Linked DNA regions of Homo sapiens: region 1 is linked to region 2. A link means that fine-mapping ties the variant in region 2 to the expression of a gene that starts in the linked region. Tissue or cell type: whole blood. Region 2 holds a variant in brackets; the other region holds the start of a gene. All regions are shown on one strand. Distances are between the middles of the regions.

What was found. PIP is the estimated chance that this variant, and not a neighbour inherited with it, causes the effect.
Region 1: CCDC77 starts here. The variant in region 2 is fine-mapped to the expression of CCDC77 in whole blood (INTERVAL, PIP above 0.99).

The regions. Positions count from the first base shown.
Region 1 is chr12:395,420-405,769 of GRCh38, reverse strand. It overlaps CCDC77 (coiled-coil domain containing 77), which reads right to left and starts at 4,126. Exons shown (of 13, transcript NM_032358.4): 1 at 4,086-4,126; 2 at 206-259. It overlaps LOC105369594 (a long non-coding RNA gene), which reads left to right and starts at 4,360. Exons shown (of 4, transcript XR_007063149.1): 1 at 4,360-4,452; 2 at 4,720-4,877. RefSeq lists enhancers at 3,316-3,868, 4,283-4,602.
Region 2 is chr12:422,842-433,986 of GRCh38, reverse strand. CCDC77 (coiled-coil domain containing 77) reads right to left here. Exons shown (of 13, transcript NM_032358.4): 6 at 5,122-5,218; 7 at 3,251-3,323; 8 at 2,033-2,121; 9 at 665-813. Among named protein-coding and RNA genes, the nearest start is that of CCDC77, 27 kb to the right of the region's middle. The variant TC/C (reference allele first, on the strand shown) is at 6,736.

The sequences.
Region 1 (10,350 bases), 28 kb after region 2:
ATGTATATATATACAACTCTCAATATGAATTTGAAAGACTGTTAAACATCCTTTTCTTCTGCTGGCCAGTCTATTCAATCTAGATTTAAAAATCTGTTTCTGCTTCTCTCATCCCATTTGTTTTCTTCTACAGCCAACCCTTCAAATACGCCATCTTTCTTCTAATTCTCTCCTTTAAAAGACTACTCTCCTCCTCCAAACTCACCTCCTTCCAAAATACGTCTCCAAATTGGGTCAATGTGCCTCTTGTCCAAATAACCTAGAAAATAAAGTTATTGGATTGGCATGGAAGGATTATGGGTAACATTTTTTTAAAAAAGCAGCTTTATGGAATGTAATTTGTGTACACCATTAAACTCATTCAAAGTGTAAATTCAATGATTTTTAGTATATTCACAGATACGTGTACCTATCAGCACAGTCCATTCTAGAAGTTTCGTCACTTCAAGAAAAAAACCCTGTGTCCTTCAGCTATTATCCCTGTCTCCCAGTCCTAAGCAACCACTAACCTACTGTCTCTACAGATTTCCCTATTCTGGACTTTCCTATAAATGGAATCACATAGTATATGGTCTTTTGTGACTGTCTTGTTTCACTTAGCATAATGTTTTCAAGGTTCACCTATGTGGTACCATGTATCAGTACTTCATTCCTTTTTGTGGCTGAATAAAATTCCATTGTACGGATATGGGTGACAACTTAAAGTTAAATTTCACTGTTTCAAAGCCATTTAAGAGTAATTTGAAGCGGCTGGGCACAGTGGCTCCTGCCTGTAATCCCAGCACTTTGGGAGGCCGAGGAAGGCGGATCACCTGAGGTCAGGAATTCAAGACCAGCCTGACCAACCTGGAGAAACCCCATCTCTACTAAAAATACAAAGTTAGCTGGGCATGGTGGTGCATCCCTATAATCCCACCTACTCAGGAGACTGAGGCAGGAGAATTGCTTGAACCTGGGAGGCGGAGGTTGTGGTGAGCCAAGATCGCGCCATTACACTCCAGCCTGGGCAACAAGAGCGAAACTCCGTCTCAAAAAAAAAAAAAAAAAAGTAATTTGAAGCTTTGAAAGACCCTTCTAACAACCTGCAATCCCTCTTCTCCTTCATAGTGACTGTCCTCACTGTTGCACATGTCTACGAAAAGTTGTCTACACTCACCTCTCTGGCTGCAAGACGGGGCCTTGCTATGTTGCCCAGGCTGGCCTTGAACTCCCGGACTCAAACAATCCTCCTCCCTTGGCCTTCCAAAGTGCTGAGATTACAGGCATGAGCCACTGAGCCAGGCCTCGGGCTTCTACTATGACATCTAACCAAGCTCTTATTGGTCAGCAGACATCCAAATTAATAAATTCAATTGCTCTTTTCTGTTTCTATCCTCCTCCATCCAATAGTTACTCCTTCACTTGTATTCTTAATTAGATAGTGCCAACTACCTATTTATTTATTTATTTTTTGAGACAGAGTCTCACTCTGTTCAGCCCAGGCTGGAGTGCAGTGGCACGATCTTGGCTCACTGCAACCTCCACCTCCTGGGTTCAAGTGATTCTCCTGCCTCAGCCTCCCCAGTGGCTGGGATTACAGGCACCTGCCACTGTGGCTAATTTTTTTTGTATTTTTAGTAAAGACAGGGTTTCGCCATGTTGGCCAGGCTGGTCTCGAACTCCTGACCTCAGATGATCCACCCACCTCTGCCTGCCAGTGTTGGGATTACAGGCGTGAGCCACTGTGCCTGGTAGTGCCAACTACCCTTTAAAAATATATCACTTTGGGACCGGACCTTGGCATGGCCAGGCCATGGCAAGACCCTGTCTTTACCAAAATTTTAAAAATTAGCTGGGCACAGTGGCAATGTAGTCCCACCTGCTTGGTGCGAGGATCACTTCAGCCTGAGGGTTCAAGGCTGCAGCGAGCAGTGATCGTGCCACTGCACTCTAGCCTGGACAACAGCGCAAGACCCTGTCTCAAAAAACAATTAAAATAGGCTGGGCACAGTGGCTCATGCCTGTAATGCCAGCACTTTGGGAGGCCAAGGTGAATGGACTGCTGGAGGTCAGGAGTTTGAGACCAGCCTGGGCAACATGGTGAAACCCTGTCTCTACAAAAATTACAGAATTAGCTGGGAGTGGTGGCACGTGCCTGTAGTCCCAGCTATTCAGGAGGCTGAGGCAGAGGATTGCTTGAGCTTGGGAGGCAGAGGCTGCACTGAGCTGAGATTGCCCCACTGCTCTCCAGCCTAGGTGACAGAGTGAGACCTTACCTGGAAAAAATAATAATAAAAATAAATATTGCTTTGTAGTTGAGAATGTGGGCTCTGATATCAGACTTGGGTTTGAGTCAAAGCCCTGCCTCTTATTAGCTGTGTACCTCAGGCAAGTTATCCTCTCTAAATTTCAGTTACTTCTATGTCATAGGTTGGTGTACGGATATAAGGCCGAGGGACAGTGTTTGACACATATATAAGCACTCAGTAAATGTGGACTATTATTATTATTGACAATTTTACTCCCTTGGCTCAGAGGTTCTGTCTTCAAGTTTCTTTATCATTTCCTCTAACCATTTCTTTGGGAACATCATTATTCCTCCTGTTTTTATTATTAACTCTGTCATCTAAAACACTACATGGCATACAGTAAGTAACAATTACATGTTGAATAAATAAACGACATCTCTTTCAACCTCTTGATTTGAATTAACAAAAATGTAGTGGACATTTTCACCCATAGTCCCACTGGCACTTGAAACGTTTAACTTAAAAAAGAAATCACTCAAGTTAGGTATTTTTTTAGCATCTCAAAGCTAACATTTCCTAAACCTAACACATCATCTTTTTATCCAAACATGCCCCTTCTGACTTTCCTATTTTAGTTACTAATTCAGCGTTTCCAAGCAACCGGGAGTTGGCAACTTAAATTCATCATTTGATCACTCATTCTTCTGAACCTCCTGTCTAACCATATGAATATCTTGTATATTTTATCTCCACAATGACCATGTTAATTCAGAGTCTCAATACTTCTTACCCACACCATTACAACACCTTAACGGTTCTACCTACTCCTTGCGTCTCCTGGACCATTTTCTTTAATAAAATACATCAGTAGCACCTCATAGCCTAAAGCATTAAATCCAATTTGTTAGCCTAGAATTCATGGCTTTCTACATAAGGGCCAAACCTAACTTTCCTGCCTTATTTCTCTCTACTCTCCTAAATGTACCGTTTCCAGATAACTTTCCTGCCTCCATACCTTTGTTCATGAGCTTCCCTCTAGCTGGAACACAACTCCCTCCACAACCCTCATAATTTCACTTAACAAAATCTAGTCTGTACATGAAAACTCATCTTAAATACCACCTCCTTTTTCTCTTTCCTGAGTCTCCCCATCCAAAATGATTTAGCAAAAATGATCTAAGTGCAAAAGAACTGCCTTTGAAATTATCTACAAGTCAACATATTAGAGTGCTTTATTGCTATCGTTTCTCCCATGCTAGCGTGCGCTCCCTACAGACAGAAATCGCGTCTTACTCTTCATTGCCTCTTCCAAAGGAACAATGCCTTTGTTTATAGGTAAATTAACGGGTTTCAGCTAGGGTCTCTGCACCTATCTCCAATACCCTTGCTTAGATATATTCTTATAGCTTGTCTACTAACAATTAACATTTGTGTAGCACTTTGAATTTTTTTCTTTTAGCCACGTGACAAATCTGTACAATTTATTATCCCAACAACCGTTCAGTATTTTCACTATCCCTTATTTCACAAATGAGGAAACTGAGAGCTAGACCAGCGTGGGGTTAGAGTACACCGGAACGCATCTCCAGGGCGCCCGAATCCCGTACTCCTTTTCCCACTTCATCCCATTCTCGACCGCCTCACTGCTCCAGGTCCCAACGCTCCAGCACTCCTGAGGTCTCTCCCTTTGCACATTGGAGCTTTCCTCCTCCGGTCCCCAGCCCCTCCACGGACACCACATTCAGGCTCACGTCCTCTCCTCCGCACTGCTTCCGCAGTTACTTCTCCCTAACCAGATTTTCTTCCCAAGGCTTCTTACCTAACCCCTTCACCCCAAACCCGAAACTCTATACTCACGACACACTAAGACTCCGAGTCAGGGAACGCAACTGAAAAACAAAAGTCAAACCAAGGAGCGGCGCGGCGCCACTGAGCGTCCCTGAATCCGTGCAATCGCGAAGAAGTTTACATGGCCCTTTGGAATGCGCACCAATGGGAAGGGCCTTCACACAGAGGCCCGCCCCCATCTCGCCCCTCCTCGCGGTGCTCCCGACCGCGCAGAGGTCTCTGGGAAATGTAGTTTTCTTCTGCCTGGAGCTCTGCGCGGGGCGACGCAGCTGGGCTGCAACCCGCTCCTCCAGGGACGGGTAGTGTGACGTTTGGGGTCAGAACGCACCACTTTCGGGCACCCCCACTTAAGATTGCTCAACTGCTTTGAGCTCAGGTACTTCGCGTTCATGGTACATATATGTTGTAATTTCCAAGCTTGTCTCAAGAGATAAAGATTCTAAGAAAAGTTTCTTCTTCCATGACCGGGTGGCCTAGAGCCAGGATAGGACCTGAGGTTCAGTTTCTACGGTCAGGGGACTATGTATTAAAATTCTACTATTTGTTCCATAGCAAACACTGCTTCCTTTTCCGGAGAAATGTAAGACACTGGGCTTTAATGATAAAAGCAAGTTCAAAATCCATTATGGTCTTATCTTTCCAGAAAGCAAGGTGTAAAGGTGGGGGAAAAGCACTTTCGTCTCAGAATTACAGCTACTGGTATGGAAAAGCTGGGGCCCTTCGCTGGTGTGAGTCCTAAGGATGTCTAAATGGAACGTGCATCTGCTACAGGCTCGCACTTTCCTTTATTGCGCTTCCCAGGTAACTGTTTTTACAAATGTAAGGTTTGTGGCAACTCTGCATGGAACCAAATCTATCTGCGCCATTTTTCCTACAGCACAGGCTTACTATGTGTCTCTGCACCACATTTGGTAATTTTCACAATATTTCAAACTTTTTCATAATTATTGTATATGTTATGCTGATCTGTTATCCTTTATATTACTATTATAATTGTTTAGGGGCACCATGAACCATGCCCATATAAGATGGCAAACTTAATTCATAAATGTTGTGGATGTTTTAACTGCTCCACAGACCAGCAGTCTCCCTGCCTTTCTCCCTCTCTTCTTGCCTCCTTATTCCTGTGATACAACAATATTGAAATTAGACCAATTAACAATCCTACAGTGGGGGTTCAAGTGAAAGGAAGAGTCACACATCTCTTACTTTAAATAAAAAGCTGAAAATGATTAAGCTCAGTGAAAAAGGCATGTTGAAAGCCAAGACAGGATGAAAGCCAGTCTTCTTGCACCAAAGTTAGCCAAGTTGTGCATGCAAAGGAAAAGTTTTTGAAGGAAATTAAAAGTGCTACTCCAGTAAACACAAAAATGATAAGAAAGTGAAACAGACATTGCTGATATAGAGAAAGTTTGAGTGGTCTGGATAGAAGATCAAACCAGCCACAGCATTCCCTGAAGCCAAAGCCTAATCTGGAGCAAAGTCCTAACTCTTCAATAAAATGAAGGCTGAGACAGGTGAGGAAGCTGCAGAAGAAAAGGTGGAAGATAGCGGAGGCTGGTTCGTGAGGTTTAAGGAAAGGAGCTATTTCCGTTACTTAAAAGTGCAAGGTGGAAGCAGCAAGTGCTGATGTAGATGCCGCAGCAAGTTATTCAGAAGAGCTAACTAAGGTAATTGATTAAGGTGGCTAAACTAAACTACAGACTTTTGATATATATGAACCAGCCTTTTATTGGAAGGAGATGCCAAGTAGTACTTTTGTAGCTAGAGAGAAGTCAATACCTGGCTTCACAGCTTCTAAGAACAGACTGACTCTCATGTTAGGGGCTAATGCAACTGGTGACTTTAAGTTGAAGCCAGTGCCCATTTACATCCCTGAAATCCTAGAGCCCTTAAGAATTATGTTAGATATAGTCTGCCTGTGCTCTATAAATGGAACAACAAAACCTGGATGACAGCATATATGTTTATAGCATGGTTAACTGAGTATTTTAAGTTCACCGTTTTATGTATGTTTTATTTTAAGTCCTACTGCTCAGGAAAAAAAGGATTTCTTTCAAAATATTACTTCTCACTCACAATGCAACTGGTCACCCAAGAGCTCTGGTGGAGGTATGCAAACAGATGAATGTTGCTTTCATGCTTGCAAACACAACAGACATTCTGCAGCTCATGGATCAAGGAGTCATTTTGACTTTCAGGTCTTATTAAGAAATATATTTCAGGCCGGGCACGGTGGCTCACATCTGTAATCCCAGCACTTTGGGAGGCTGAGGTGGGCGGATCACCAGGTCAGGAGATCGAGACCAGCCTGGCCAACATGGAGAAACCCCCGTTTCTACTAGAAATACAAAATTAGCTGGCCATGATGGCGCATGCCTGTAATCCCAGCTACTCAGGAGGCTGAGGCAGGAGAATCACTTGAACCTGGGAGGCGGAGGTTTCAGTGAACTGAGATCGTGCCATTGCACTCCAGCTTGGGCAACAAGAGTGAAACTCCGCCTCAAAAAAAAAAAAATATTTCATAAGGCTATAGCTGCCAGACATAGTGATTTCTCTGGTGGATCTGGGCAAAGTAAATCGAAAACCTTCTGGAAAGGACTCACCACCATTCTAGATGTCCTTAAGATCATTTGTGACTTGGCTTGGTGAGATGTCTCACACCTGTAAACCCAGCACTTTGGAAGGCCAACGTGGGTGGATCACTTAAGCTCAGGAGTGCATGACAAGCCTGGGCAACATAGAAAACCTTGTCTCTATAAAAAAATACAAAAACTAGCCAGGAGTGGTGGCATGCACCTGGCTACTTGGGAGGCTGAGGTGGGAGGATTGCTTGAGCCTGGGAGACCAAGGTTGCAGTGAGCCGAGATTGTGCCACTGCAGTCCAGCCTGAGTGACAGAGCAAGACTGTGTCTCAAAAAAAAAAAAGTAAAAATATATTTAATAAAAAAATTTTAAAAAGAACATTTGTGACTTATGGGAGGAGGTCAATATCAATAATAACAGGAGTTTGGAAGAAGTTAATTCCAATCCTCTTGGATGTCTTTGAGGGGGTTCAAGACTTCATGGACGAAATAACTGCAGATGCTGTGGAAGTAGCAAGAGAACTAGAATTAGAAGTGGAGCCTTGGGAGGCTGAGGCAGGAGAATCGCTTGAACCCGGGAGGCAGAGGTTGCAGTGAGCCCAGATCGCGCCACTGCAGTCCAGCCTGGGCAACAGAGCAAGATTCTGTCTCAAAAAAAAAAAAAAGTGGAACCTGAAGATGTGACTGAATTGCTGCAATCTCATGATGAAACTATGGATGAAGAGTTGCTTCTTATGAATAAGTAAAGAAAGTGGTTTCTTTAGCTGGAATCTACTCCTGGTGAAGATGCTGTGAACATTGCCAAAATGACAACAAAGGGTTTAGAATATTCCATAAACTTAGTCGATAAAGCAGTTGCAGGGTTTGAGGATTGACTTCAACTTTGAAAGAAGTTCTACTATGGGTAAAATGCTATCAAACAGCATTGCATGCTACAGAGAAATCTTTCATGAAAGGAAGAATCAATCAATATCATGAAAGGAAGAATGAAAACAACTTCATTGTTGTCTTATTTTAAGAAATTGCCACAGCCACCCCAGCCTTTAGCAATCAGCACCATGATCAGTCAGCAGCCCCCAACATCAAGGCTAGACCCTCCATCAGTGAAAATATTATGACTTGGCTTAGACGATCATTAGCATTTTTAGAATAAAGTATTTTAAGGCCAGTCGCGGTGGCTCACGCCTGTAATCCCAGCACTGCAGGAGGCTGAGACGGGCGGATCACGAGGTCAGGAGATGGAGACCATCCTGGCTAAGACAGTGAAACCCCATCTCTACTAAAAATACAAAAAATTAGCCGGGCGTGGTGGCGGGCGCCTGTAGTCCCAGCTGCTCGGGAGGCTGAGGCAGGAGAATCACTTGAACCCAGGAGGCAGAGGCTGCAGTGAGCTGAGATCGCGCCACTGCACTCCAGCCTGGGTGACAGAGCAAGACTCTGTCTCAAAAAAAAAAAGCATTTTAAATTAAGGCATGTAAATTTTTTTAAAGAAATAATGCAAACTAGAAATAATGCACTAGACTACAGTATCGTGTAAACACATAGCTTTTTTTATGTACCAGGAAACCGAAAATTTCGAGCAATTTGCTTTATGGTGATATTCACTTTATTATGGTGGTCTGGAACTGAACCTGCAATATCTCCAAGTTATGCCTGTACTCCCAAACCTGCTTTTTTCTCCCTTGTGATTTTCTCTGTTAATTACATTAATATCTTCCCAAACATCTCGGCTCGGTATCTTTTGTCTATTTCCTTTCTTTTAGCCCCTGCAATTTTTAAAAAATCAAGTCATGGTGAGCCTGTCTTCATATATATCTTCCTATTTATTTCCACTATGTGTCTTATTACCTTTCACTTGGTCTATTACCATAGGCTTCTAACTGGGTGTTCTTGCCTCCAATCCATTCTATAAAAGGTGATTTTTGTCCAGGCTGGTCTTGAACTCCTGACCTCGTGATCCACCCGCCTCAGCCTCCCAAAGTGGTGGGATTACAGGCATGAGCCCCATCTCTAGTAAAAATACAAAAATTAGCTGGGTGTGGTTACATGTGGCACATGCCTGTAATCCCAGCTACTCAGGAGGCTGAGGCAGGCGAATTGCTTGAACTCAGGAAGTGGAGGTTGCAGTGAGCTGAGATCACGCTGTTGCACTCCAGCCTGGGTGACAGAGCGAGACTCTGTCTCCAAAAAATTCAATTCCGGGTCTGTCACACTCCTGCTTATAAACTTTGATGACTCCCCACAGACTAGAGAATGAAGTTCAGACAGTAGTATGGCATTCAAAGACTGCAGCTATCTGACCCCATTTGTCTCTATTAGAAGAAATTGATGTGGTCATCTCCTGAACACAGGACGCACTTTCCAGCTTCAGTTCACACTCTTCCTTTTATCTGGATTGGCCCTTTCAGTGCATCTTCACTCAAAATTCTTACGAGAGCCAACTCAAATACTACCACTTTTGTAAAATCTTGACTTATCTCCCTAATTGGAAATACAGTTGTCCCTTGCTCAGTATCTGCTAGGGATTGGTGCCAGGCAATTCCTGGGTACCAAAAGGCATAGATGCTCAAGTCCCTTACATAAATGGCATATTATTTGCATATGACCTATGCACACCCTCCCGTATACTTCAAAACATCTATAGATTACTTATAATACCTAATACAATTTAAACAGTTGTTTTTCTTCCTTTTCCTTTTTTATTTATTTATTTTTTCAAGAGGGAGTCTTGCTCTGTCCCGCAGGCTGGAGTGCAGTGGCATAATCTCAGCTCACTGCCACCTCCGCCTCCCAGGTTCAAGCGATTCTCTGGGCTCAGCCTCCCAAGTAGCTGGGATTACAGGCACCCACCACCACACCTGGCTAATTTTTGTATTTTTAGTAGAGATGGGGTTTCACCATGTTGGCCAGGCTGGTCTCGAACTCCTGACCTCAGGTGATCTGCCCGCCTTGGCCTCCCAAAGTGCTGGGATTATAGGCGTGAGCCACCTCGCCTGGCCAGTGTATTGACTTTTTTAAATTTCAAAATGTATTTATTTTCTTTTATTTTTTATTTTTTAGAGACAAGGTCTTGCTGTGTTGCTCAGACTGGACTCAAACCCCTGGGCTCAAGCAATCCTCCTGACTCAACCTCCTGAATAGCTGGGATTACAGATGCATGCCACTGCACTTGATTTACTGTATTGTTTTATATTTTTTATTTATTTATTTATTTTGAGACAGAGTCTCACTCTGTCGCCCAGGCTGGAGTGCAGTAGTGTGATCTCAGCCCACTGCAACCTCTGCCTTCTGAGTTCAAGCGATTCTCTTGCCTTAGCCTCCCAAGTGGCTGGGACTACAGGCATGCACCACGACGCCCAGCCAATTTTTGTATTTTTAGTAGAGATGGGGCTTCGCCATGTTGGCCACTCTGGTGTCGAACTCCTGACCTCAAGCAATCTACCCACCTCGGCCTCCCAGAGTTCTGGGATTACAGGCGTGAGCCAGCACACTCGGCCTGTACTGTTTTTTAATCTGTATTATTTTTATTATTTATTATTATTTTTATTGTTTTTTTTTCCAAATATTTTCTGTAGTTGGTTGGGTTCGTAGATACGGACTCTCTAAATGAGGAACCCACATATATGGAAGGCTAGCTGTAATCCCTCCTGATTGGATATTCATTTAGCAATTTGTCCTTTTATTTTTAT
Region 2 (11,145 bases):
CTGTTTCACACATCATAGATATTTACCAATTCAAAATCCCAAAGCTATATGAGTATTTTGATAACCAAGAATACACTACACCAACTCAATCTGTTAGAAAAAAATATAATCCTGCCTTTCTTGGGACAAAAATTTCATAGAAGCCAAAAATGATAACATGTCTCTAGATAAAAGCACCGGCAGAGTTCTGATTAAAATACTGAGTGTGCAGTTTTTTTTAGATATGTAAACTCATGTTTTCCATATTCATGAAGGGGCAAACAAAAGAAAAGGGTCTTACTACATTGAGTCAGATAGTATATCAGTGGATAAAAGAACACTTTTTTTTTTTTTTTGAGACAGGGTCTCACTCTGTCACCCAGGCAGGAGCGATTACAGGCGTGAGCCACTGCACCCGGCCTAAGAACACTTCTTAGCCACCAGAAGCAAGCTAAAACACCAAAATGGATTAAAAGGAGCACGTGAAATACTCATCAGCTCTTCAACAGCACGCCTGGAAAAGCGAGGTACTCACCTACGTAGAGGCGGGGGTTTCTGAGGAAGACAGTCTTTTCAAGGCTCCCTTTAGTTCTATGACCCGCTGTTGTTCAAGTACAAAATGTTAACTTTTAAGTCACTCAGAAAAATACAATACCCGTTAGGTACAGCTTTCTTAGACACTCACTTTTTGGTTAGCTCTTTGATTTTGTTCTGATTTCTCTGGTGCTGAACTTGTATTTCCTCAAGGTGAATCCGTCTGTCCTCGATGAGCCCTTCAATTTGTTCTCGAGAAAGTTTGGTCTGCTCTCCCAGCTGAGCCTGCAGTGCTTCCACCTAGACAGGCCAAAAAGGGGTGAGGAATCCAGCCCTACTTCCACTTACTTCATACCTCTAGGAAAAGTGAGCCTTTCTCCAGAAAAATTAAAAAACAAACACAAACAAAAACATCTCAATCCTAATCCTCTTGTTCATTTCAAGACAAGGTCTTGCTCTGTCCCCCAGGCTGGAGTGCAGTGGGCGTGATCATAGCTCACTGCAGCCTCAACCCCCTGGGCTCAAGCAGTCCTCCCTGCCTCAGCCTCCAGGACTACAGGTGTGTACCACCACACCCAGCTAATTTCATTTTTAATTTTTGTAGAGATGGGGTCTCACTATGTTGTCCAGGCTGGTCTCGAACTTTTGGGCTCCAGCAATCAACTCGCCTTGGCCTCCCAAAATGCTGGGATTACAGGCATTACTATGCCCAGCCCAGTTCCTCTTAATGTCTTATAAATGGGGTTAGGCTATACAAGAGTAGATTCTTTGTCCAAACGAAACCCAGCATCTACAACACACAAACAAAGCTACAAAATCCAGTTTTCTCACCCTGTGATTTTTGCCTTTTCACTATCTCCCTTGACTGTCTCCCTTTAAGACACCCTTCCTGCACAGAAGCAAAATGACTCTTTTCTTAGTTTTTGGTTTCAAAAAGCAGAGCAAAATGAATATAATGTAATTTCCTTCTCTGTGTCTGGTTGTCATGACTCCACATGGAGATACTGGCCAAAGGTAGAAACTGTCATTTAAATCAACAGAGATTTAACACAGTAAGGACAGAAACTTTAGTGCAACTAGATGAAAAATCATGGTTCCAAATGACACATAACCAGGAGGTAAGAGAACAGTTCATTACTTTCCTAGACTTTGGAACCTAAGCACTAAATAAATGAATATACCATCAAATGTTGATCTATCAGCATAGACAAGCTTCCCTCTGCAATCTCTGCATATCCCTAGGCCAGTGAATTCTTACCTTGTAATGGTTTTGGTGGATGGGGCTTAGTATATTGAATTGAAGGTTCAGAGTAGCACCTTAAGAATGTTCAAATAGAAAAGGATGGTTTCAAAATATAAGCTCTTAGAAATTAGGAACAATCTCAATTTTCTTAACCACATGATGCTTAGATGTAACCTGTGTGCAAGGAGATACTTATCACATGACACTGAGGGTATGTGACATAGAGCTGCACCTGTGGATAAAAGCCATCTTGGTCTGCCAAAATACATTCTTTACCTGTAGGATGAGTGTCTGTATGTCTCTTTGGTAATGCTCAGAACTTTCTTTTCTCTCTCTCGATGGTCTTCTTTTGCTTATTTTAGGATCTAAAATAGAAAACAAAATCCATCAAGAAGATTTTACTCAGCTTTTCTGTGTGCTATTGAAATATCAGTATTTCCCACGCAGAGGAGTTCAGATTCATTTACCTGTAAGGGTAATGAAGGGGTTCTCACTAATGAAGGGATTCGGAAGACAAAGGGAAACATCATAATCATAGTGCTTAACTTTTCAAATAGGAATCTCTATAAGGGAACTCTGCAGGATGTCACCTAAATAATCATATTCATCTTCTGGCAGAATCAACCACTAAATTTTCCTTAGAATCAACCACTAAAATAGTTGTGTCTATTTTCTTAGTAAATCCTATTCGATCAGAATAAGGCCAGGTGTTGTGGCTCATGCCTGTAATCTCAGTGCTTTGGGAGGCCAAAGCAGGACAATCACTTGAAGCCAGGAGTTCAAAACCAGCCTGAGTGACATAGTGAGAACCCCTTCCTACACAAAGTAAAATACAATACAATAAATTAGCCAGGTGTGGTGGCATATGCCTGTCGTCCTAGCTACTCAGGAGGTTGAGGTAGGAGAATCGCTTGAATCTGGGAGGCAGAGGCAGCAATGAGCCAAGATCGCGCCATTGCACTCCAGCCTGGGCAACAGGAGCAAAACTCTATCTCAAAAGAAAAAAAAAAAAAAAAAAGAACTGAGCAAAATTTAATTCCTTGGATGATTCAAGAAGCTCATTAAGACATTAGACCACCAAAGGCATCATTATGAACATCAATTATCACTGTACAGTAGGAAAACATTTCCAATTGTGTGTTCTGTTTTTTTTTTTTTTTTTTTGGAGATAGTCTTGCTCTGTCACGCAATGGCACGATCTCAGCTCACTGCAACCTCCGCCTCCCAGGTTCAAGAAATCCTCCTGCCTCAGCCTCCCAAATAGCTAGGATTACAGGCGCCTGCCACCACACCCGGCTAGTTTTTTGTATTTTATGTAGAGATGGGGTTTTGCCATGTTGGCCAGGCTGGTCTCGAACTCCTGACCTCAGGTGATCCACCAACCTCAGCCTCCCAAAGTGCTGGGATTACAGGCGTGAGCCACCGCGCCCAGCCTGCACTGTGATTTTCAATTCTGCATTGATGAGAATTTCTAATAGGTTATATGGTTGTTACCTGCTTTGAAAGCTGAAGATTCACTCTGCTCACATTCACCTACAGCCTGGATAGTCTTTTGGAGAATGGTGACCTGAAGAAGCAAAAACTGGTATTGAAGTAGCCTTCCTATAAACGTAATATTTTACTTTTCAGCCTTAGTTCTGCAGATTGAACACTAGAAGTTAAATTAGTCAAAACTGATATGATCATATAAGGATGTCATGCACATGACAGACCACACAGGCAAAGTAGCAAACTGGATAAAACCCTGTGTTGACAATATAAACTTAAAAAGGTAGGCCAGGTGTGGTGGCATGTGCCTGTGGTCCCCGCTACTCAGGAGGCTAAGGTGGGAGGATTGCTTAAGCTTAGGAGCTTAAGGCTGCAGTGAGTTATGATCACTCCACTGCACTCCAACCTGGGCAACAAAATGAGACTTTGTTTCTAAAAAAATAAAAATAAGGCCAGGTGCGGTGGCTCATGCCTATAATCTCAGCACTTTGGGAGGCCAAGGTGGGCGGATCACCTGAGGTCGGGAGTTCAAGACCAGCCTAACCAACATGGAGAAACCCCATCTCTATAAAAAATACAAAATTAGCCAGGCGTGGTGGCACATGCCTGTAATCCCAGCTACTCAGGAGGCTGAGGCAGGAGAATCACTTGAACCTGGGAGGCGGAGGTTGTGGTGAGCCGAGATTGCACCATTACACTCCAGCCTGGTGTACAAGAGCGAAACTCCATCTTGAAAAATAAATAAATAAATATAAATAAATAAACAAAATTGCAGGGCTATTTAGTAATATATGATTAAAAACAAAAACAAAAACAGCTTGGGGCACAGTGGTGCACCCCTGTAGTTCCAGCTACTTGGAAGGCTGGCTACAGTGGAAGGATGGTGCTTAAGCCCAGAAGTGTGAGTCCAGCCTAGGCAACATACCAAGACCTCAGCTCTAAAATTTTTTTAAAATTTTTATTGTTTTTTTAAAAGCAGCTCTTTGGTGGGTGTGGTGGCTCATGCCTGTAATCCCAGCACTTTGACAGGCCAAGGTGGGCGGACTGCTTGAGCTCAGGAGTTCGAGACCAGCCTGGGCAACATGGTGAAACCCCATCTCTGCAAAAAATACAAAAATTAGCTGGGCGTGGTGGTGTACACCTGTAGTCCCAGCTGCTTGGGAGGCTGAGGTGGGAGGAGTGCTTGAGCCCCAGAGCGGAGGTTGCAGTGAGCCGAGATTGCGCATTGCACTCCAACCTATGTAACAGAATGAGACTTTGTCTCAAAAAAAAAAAAAAAGTAGCTCTTGGCCAAGGACCTTTAGAAAACAGAAGTATACGTATACAGATATGTATAAAAATGCTCAGGAACTGTTTATAGAAGTGAAAAAATAGAAATAGTATACACAGACACATAACTATTTCTATAGGAATGAAGAAAGAGATGGAAGTATATACACCAAACTATTACTAATGGATTATCTCTGGGGTATAGGATTATGAGAACCTGCCACTTTTATATGATAGATTACTATACTCTGTGTTTGTTTTTAATAAAGACCATGGATTACATTTGTAATCAGTATAAACAAAGATTTAAAAAGAAACTTAAGCATCAAAACTTGCTCCCACACATAGTCTGCTCCTGCTTTCCTCTCTGTCTCAGCTAAAACAGCCACCCCTCTGTGCTTCAGGTTTCTAAACATTGAAATGGGGTAAATAATGCTACTTCCCAAGGTTTTCGAAGAAAAATGCTTTAAAAACTCAGGCAAACAAGGCACTGTGATGGCTAATTCTCCATCTGCCTTCTCCAGCGGATACTAAAGTTCTTCTGATGATGGGCCTTAGCCTGTGACTTGTAAAGCCACACTCACCATGCTACACCAAAGATTACTTACTTTGTGAGGAGGCTCCTTACAAAAATAGGTCACTTCTCCAGCATCTGTTCCCACAAGAGCCAAGAGATTCTGAATCTTTTTCTTGTCTTCTAGCTCCCTGCAATTCTCATGGAAAGCAAGCACATATTATTAAATGTCCCAAGTAAGTAACCTTTTTCTGTTTAAAGGATCTCCCTTCTATTTTTTTTTTAAAACAATTGTAACCCCAAATTAAAACAGTAACCTCAAATTAAAATTGAATAGTTTGTATCTAGACTTCAGCTCTACTTCGTAAAACATCAGGTATTTCCATTCAGAGAAAAGGGGCCAGGGCACTTCTTAGCTAATTCTTTTTTTTTTTTTTTTTTTTTTTTTTGAGACAGAGTCTCGCTCTGTTGTCCAGGCTGGAGTGCAATGGTGCGGTCTTGGCTCACTGCAACCTCCGCCTGCCGGGTTCACGCCATTCTCCTGCCTCAGCCTCCCGAGCACCTGGGACTACAGGCGCCCGCCACTATGCCCGGCTAATTTTTGTATTTTTAGTAGAGACAGGGTTTCACTGTGTTAGCCAGGAAGGTCCTGATCTCCTGACCTCGTGATCTGCCTGCCTCGGCCTCCCAAAGTGCTGGGATTACAGGCGGGAGCCACTGCGCCCGGCCACTTCTTAGCTAATTCTAAAAGGGAATGGTAGTGGCTGCTGAGGGTTACTGCTCAGATCTTGCTCTTCGGGGCTGATGGGCTCATTCTGCCAACTGCCAGGAATGCTGCCTGCTGATAGCTTGTAGTTGAATCCCCAGACAAGGGAACTGCCTCACCCAAGTTTCTGCCTCTCATTCCTCAGGGACAGCCCATATCCAGTGCCTGGTCAATGAGGAAACACAAAAATCCAATCCCCTTGCTCAGTTCAGGATATCTCTGAAGAGCCATCCCAGCTTCAGAGATCCCTATCGTGTTGGACGAGGCCTGCTGCAACTGAATCCCAGTTTAAGTTCCCTCACTTCCCAATAAAATTCCTGCAAGCAAATCTCCACTGTACAGTCTGTTTCCCAGAGAACTCAACCTAAGATAGCTTAGGTCTGGACTGGGCCAAGGAAGCAAACGCTAAAAAGGGATTTCGGGCCGGGTGTGGTGTTTCATGCCTGTAATCCCGGCACTTTGGGCTGAGGCAGGCGGATCACCTGAGGTCAGGAGTTCGAGACCAGCCTGGCCAACATGGTGAAACCTTGGTCTCTACTAAAAATGCAAAATTTATCTGGGCGTGGTGGCGTGCACCTGTAATCCCAGCTACTCAGGAGGCTGAAGCACAAGAATCACTTGAACCCGGGAGGTGGAGTTTGCAGTGAGCCAAGATTGCACCACCGCACTCTGGCCTGGGCGACAGAGCAAGACTCTGTCTCAAAAAAAAAAAAAAAAATTAATTAATTAAAAAAAACAACATAAAAAGGGATTTCAGAGCGACTTGATATGGAGATGGTTTACAGAACGTGGCGTTTCTAGCAGCAAGGTAGATGGGTAGTCAACAGAGTATAGCTCAAACAATAAAAGATAAGTCAAAGATGGAAAAGAGGCTGAGGGCTGCACCCCAAACAAAATCACAATCTCTGACTCGTTTTTCAGGCCCGAGTCCGTTTTTTTTTT[TC/C]TTTCCGAGGCAGAGTCTCGCTCTGTCGCCCAGGCTGGAGTGCAATGGCATGATCTCAGCTCACCGCAACCTCCGCCTCCTGGGTTCAAGCAATTCTCCTGCTTCAGCCTCCCGAGTAGCTGGGACTACAGGCGCATGCCACAATGCCCAGCTAATTTTTGTATTTTTAGTAGAGATGGGGTTTCACCATGTTGGCCAGGCTGGTCTTGAACTCCTGACCTCGTGATCTGCCCGCCTCAGCCACCCCAAAGTGCTGGGATTACCAGCCCCAAGTCAGTTTTAAGTCCTAGAGACAATTACCTAAAGAAGAGGCTGGAACTCCTAGAAGGTAAGACCCTGCGACACCACAGAGTAGATATTCATGGTAATGATTCCCCACATCCTCCAAAGGGTCTATAGCCATTTATTCAAGTAACTGTATACTGGGGAAGAGGAAAGACCTGGGCATTTTAAGGACTGCTGGATACAGGGTCTAAGCTGACACCGACACCAGATAACGTGAAGCATCATCATGGCACTGGGGCACGTGGGGACCATGGAATAAATGGAATTGTGGCCCACGTCCAACTCACAGCAGGTCTACTGGATCCACCAAATCAATGGGCATTTCTTCAGTTCCCAAATGCTTAAAATGGACATACTAGGTGGGGGACAGTACCTCCAAATTAGCTTCTTGGCTTCTGGGGCAAGCTAAGTGAAAGCCTCAGAAACTGCCCCTCCCTACCCAGTCAAGACGATCAATAAAGACCTAAAGAATGCAGAGGTGGAGGTCCTTATGAAAGCCTCATTTCATTCCTCAGTATGACCCATACAAAACCAGATGGATTCTGGAAGATAAGAGTAGACTACTACCCAGTAGGTCCCAATTTCAGTCATTGTGCCAGATGTAGCACCTTTGCTAGAAGAGAATTACTTAGTCTCAGGCACATGGTAAGTGGCCACTAATTAGGCAAATGGATTCTTTCCTACCCCTCAAAAGACCAGAGGCAGTTCACATCATGTGACATGGACAGCAGTGTGCTTTTATAGTCTTTCCCAGGGCCATGTTAACGCTTTTACTTTCTGTCAATACAGTATAAAAGAATCTGGGCTGGGCGCGGTAGCTCACACCTGTAATCCCAGCACTTTGGGAGGCCGAGGCGGGTGGACCACGAGGTCGGGAGTTCGAGACCAGCCTGTCCAAAATGGTGAAACCCCATCTCTACTAAAAAGTACAAAAATTAGCTGGGCGTGATAGCGTGCGCTGTAGTCCCAGCTACTCGGGAGGCTGAGGCAGGAGAATCACTTCAATCTGGGAGGCGGAGGTTGCAGTGAGCTGCGATCACGCCACTGCACTCCAGCCTGGGTGACAGACTGAGACGCCATCTCAAAAACAAACAAACAAACAAACAAAAACAAAAAAAAGAATCTGGATCTGGCTACTCCACAGATGGCCAGTAGCTCACTACTGATGATATCGCGTTAAATCAGACGGCATGAACAAGAAACAGCAAGTGCACGTGGTAAGATACGTGTGCTCGGGAGGGTTGCAGATGAACCTTACGAAGCACATGAGTGAAGTTTTTAAGGCTGTGATCCAGGTATCCCAGGATATTCCCTCCGATGTAAAGATCAAATTATTTCACCTGGTACATGCTACCACCAAGAAGGAAGCACAATGCCCGAAAGGAGACTTCAGGTTCTGGAGACAACATACTCCGCATTTTGGAATACTGCTCTGACCTATGTATCAACTGACATGGAAGGCGAGCTTTCGGTGTGGCCCAGAGTTGAAAGGATGCTCTGCTGCTTGGGACATCATTTGGCGGATCCTATGGTGTCTGTGGTGGCACAAGGTACCAGGTGGAGTTTACGGCAAGCACCACGACAAGAATCCTAACAGACCCTCTGAGAATCTGGAGCGAGACCATGCTGTCTACAGCTGAGAATGACAACATTTGAAAACCAGCTTCTGCCATGCTAGTAGATCCTGCTAAAAACGGAGCACTTGACCGTGGGACACCAAAAACCCACGTGGCGAGGCTGGGTGCGGTGGCTCACGCTTGACATCCCAGCACTTTGGGAGGCTGAGGAGGGCAGATTGCTTGAGCTCAGGACTTCGAGATCAGCCTGGGCAATATGGAAAAACCCTGTCTCTACAAAAAATACAAAAATTAGTCAGGTGTGTTGGCTCGTGCCTGTAGTCCCAGCTACTTGGAAGGATGAGGCAGGAGGATCACCTGAGCCTGGGAGGTGGAGGTTGCAGTGAGCCGAGATCGTGCCACTACATTCCAGCCTGGGTGACAGAGGGAGACCCTGTCTCAAAATAAAAATTAAAAAAAAAAAAAAAAAGAAAGAAACCATGTGGCTAAGTCTTCTCAACAAATGATGTTGAGAAAACTGGACATCCACATGCAAAATAATGAAGTTGGAACCTTACCTAATGCTGTATACAAAAATTAACTAAAAATGGATCAAAGACCTAGACGTAAGAGCTAAAATAATAAAACTTTCAGAAGAAAACATAGGAGAAAAGTTTCCTGACAATGAATCTGGCAATGATTTCTTGAATGTGATACCAAAAGCAGAAGCAACAAAATAAAAAAATACATAAATTGAACTTCATAAAAATTAAAAACTCCTGGCTCGGCATAGTGGTTCATTCCTGTAATCCTAGCACTTTGGGAGGCTGAAGCAGGAGGATCACTTGAGGTCAGAAGTTCAAGACCAGCCTAAGGAATATAGTGAGATCTGCCCTGTTTCTACAAAAAAATGAAAAAAAGAAAATAAATTAGCCAGGCATAGTGGTGCATGCCTATAATCCCAGCTACTCCAGAGGCTAAGGCAGGAGGATCACCCTGGCCGACAGAGTGATACCCTGCCCCTAAAAAAAAAAAAAAGAGGAGAAAATAAAAAGGCAATCTATGGAACAGGAGAAAATATTTGCATGCATCTGTATATCTAACAAAGGTTTAATATCCAGAATATATAATGAACTTCTATAGCCAGGCACGGTGGCTCACATCTATAATCCCAGCACTTTGGGAGGGTGAGGTGAGGATCACTTGAGCTCAGGAGTTTGAGACCAGCCTGGGCAACATCGCGAAACTCTGACTCTACCAAAAATACAAAAATTAGCCAGGTGTAGTGGCACATGCCTGTAGTCCCAGCTACTCAGGAGGCTGACATGGGAGGACAGCTTGAGCCCAGCAGACAAAGGTTGCAGTGAGCCGTGATCACGCCACTGCCTGGGCGACAGAGCAAGACCCTGTCTCAACAACAAAAAAGAACTTCAACTCAACAACAAAAACAACCCAATTATTAAAATGGGCAAAATATTTGAATAGACATTTCTCCAAAGAAGATATATAAATGGCACAAGAAAGATGCTCAACATTTAAAAATGCAAATCAAAACCACAATGAGACTCCCTCACACCCATTAAGACGGTTACTATCAAATAAACAGAAAATAAGGCTGGGCACAGTGGCTCACGCCTGTAATCCTAACACTTCGGGAAGCCAAGGTGGGCAAATCGCTTGAGCCCAGGAGTGTGAGACCAGCCTGGGCAAAACGGGGAAACCCCATCTCTTCAAAAGATACAAAAATTAGCCAAGCACAGTGGTGCGCACCCATGGTCCCAACTAACTGGGAGGCTGAGGTTGGGGGGATCATCTGAGCCTGGGAGGTTGAGGCTGCAGTGAGCTGTGATCATGCCGCTGCACTCCAGCCTGGGTGACTGAGCAAGACCCTGTCTCAAAAAAAAAAAAAAAAAAACAAAACAAAAAAAAACACAAAAAACACAAAAAACACCCAGAAAATAACAAGTGTTGGCCAGGCATGGTGGCTCATGCCTGTAATCCCAGCACTTTGGGAGGCTGAGGCAGGAGGATTGCTTGAGCTCAGGAGTTTGAGACCAGCCTGGGAAACATGGTGAAACCTTGTCTCCACAAAAAAAAAAAATATATATATATATAAAAATTAGCTGGGCATGGCAGCACATGCATGTAGTCACAGCTACTTGGAGGCTGAAGTGCAAGGATCACCTGAGCCTAGGAGGTAGGTAAAGGCTGCAGTGAGGCAAGATCATGCCACTGCACTCCAGCCTGGGTGACAGAGTGAGACCCTGTCTCAAAAAAAAAAAAAAAAAAAAAAAAGGCTTAAAAGAAAAAAAAAAGAAAATAACAGGTATTGTCAAGGATGTGGAGAAACTGAAACCCTTGTGCACTGCTGGTGGGAATATAAAATGGTATAAACACTATGGAAAATAGTATGGCAGTTACTCAAAAAAATAAAAACAGAATTACAATGTGATCTACTGCTGGGTATATACACAAAAGAATTAAAAGTAAGGTCTCAGCCGGGCACAGTAGCACACACCTGTAATCCCAGCACTCTGGGAGGCTGAGGCAGACAGATCACTTGAGCTT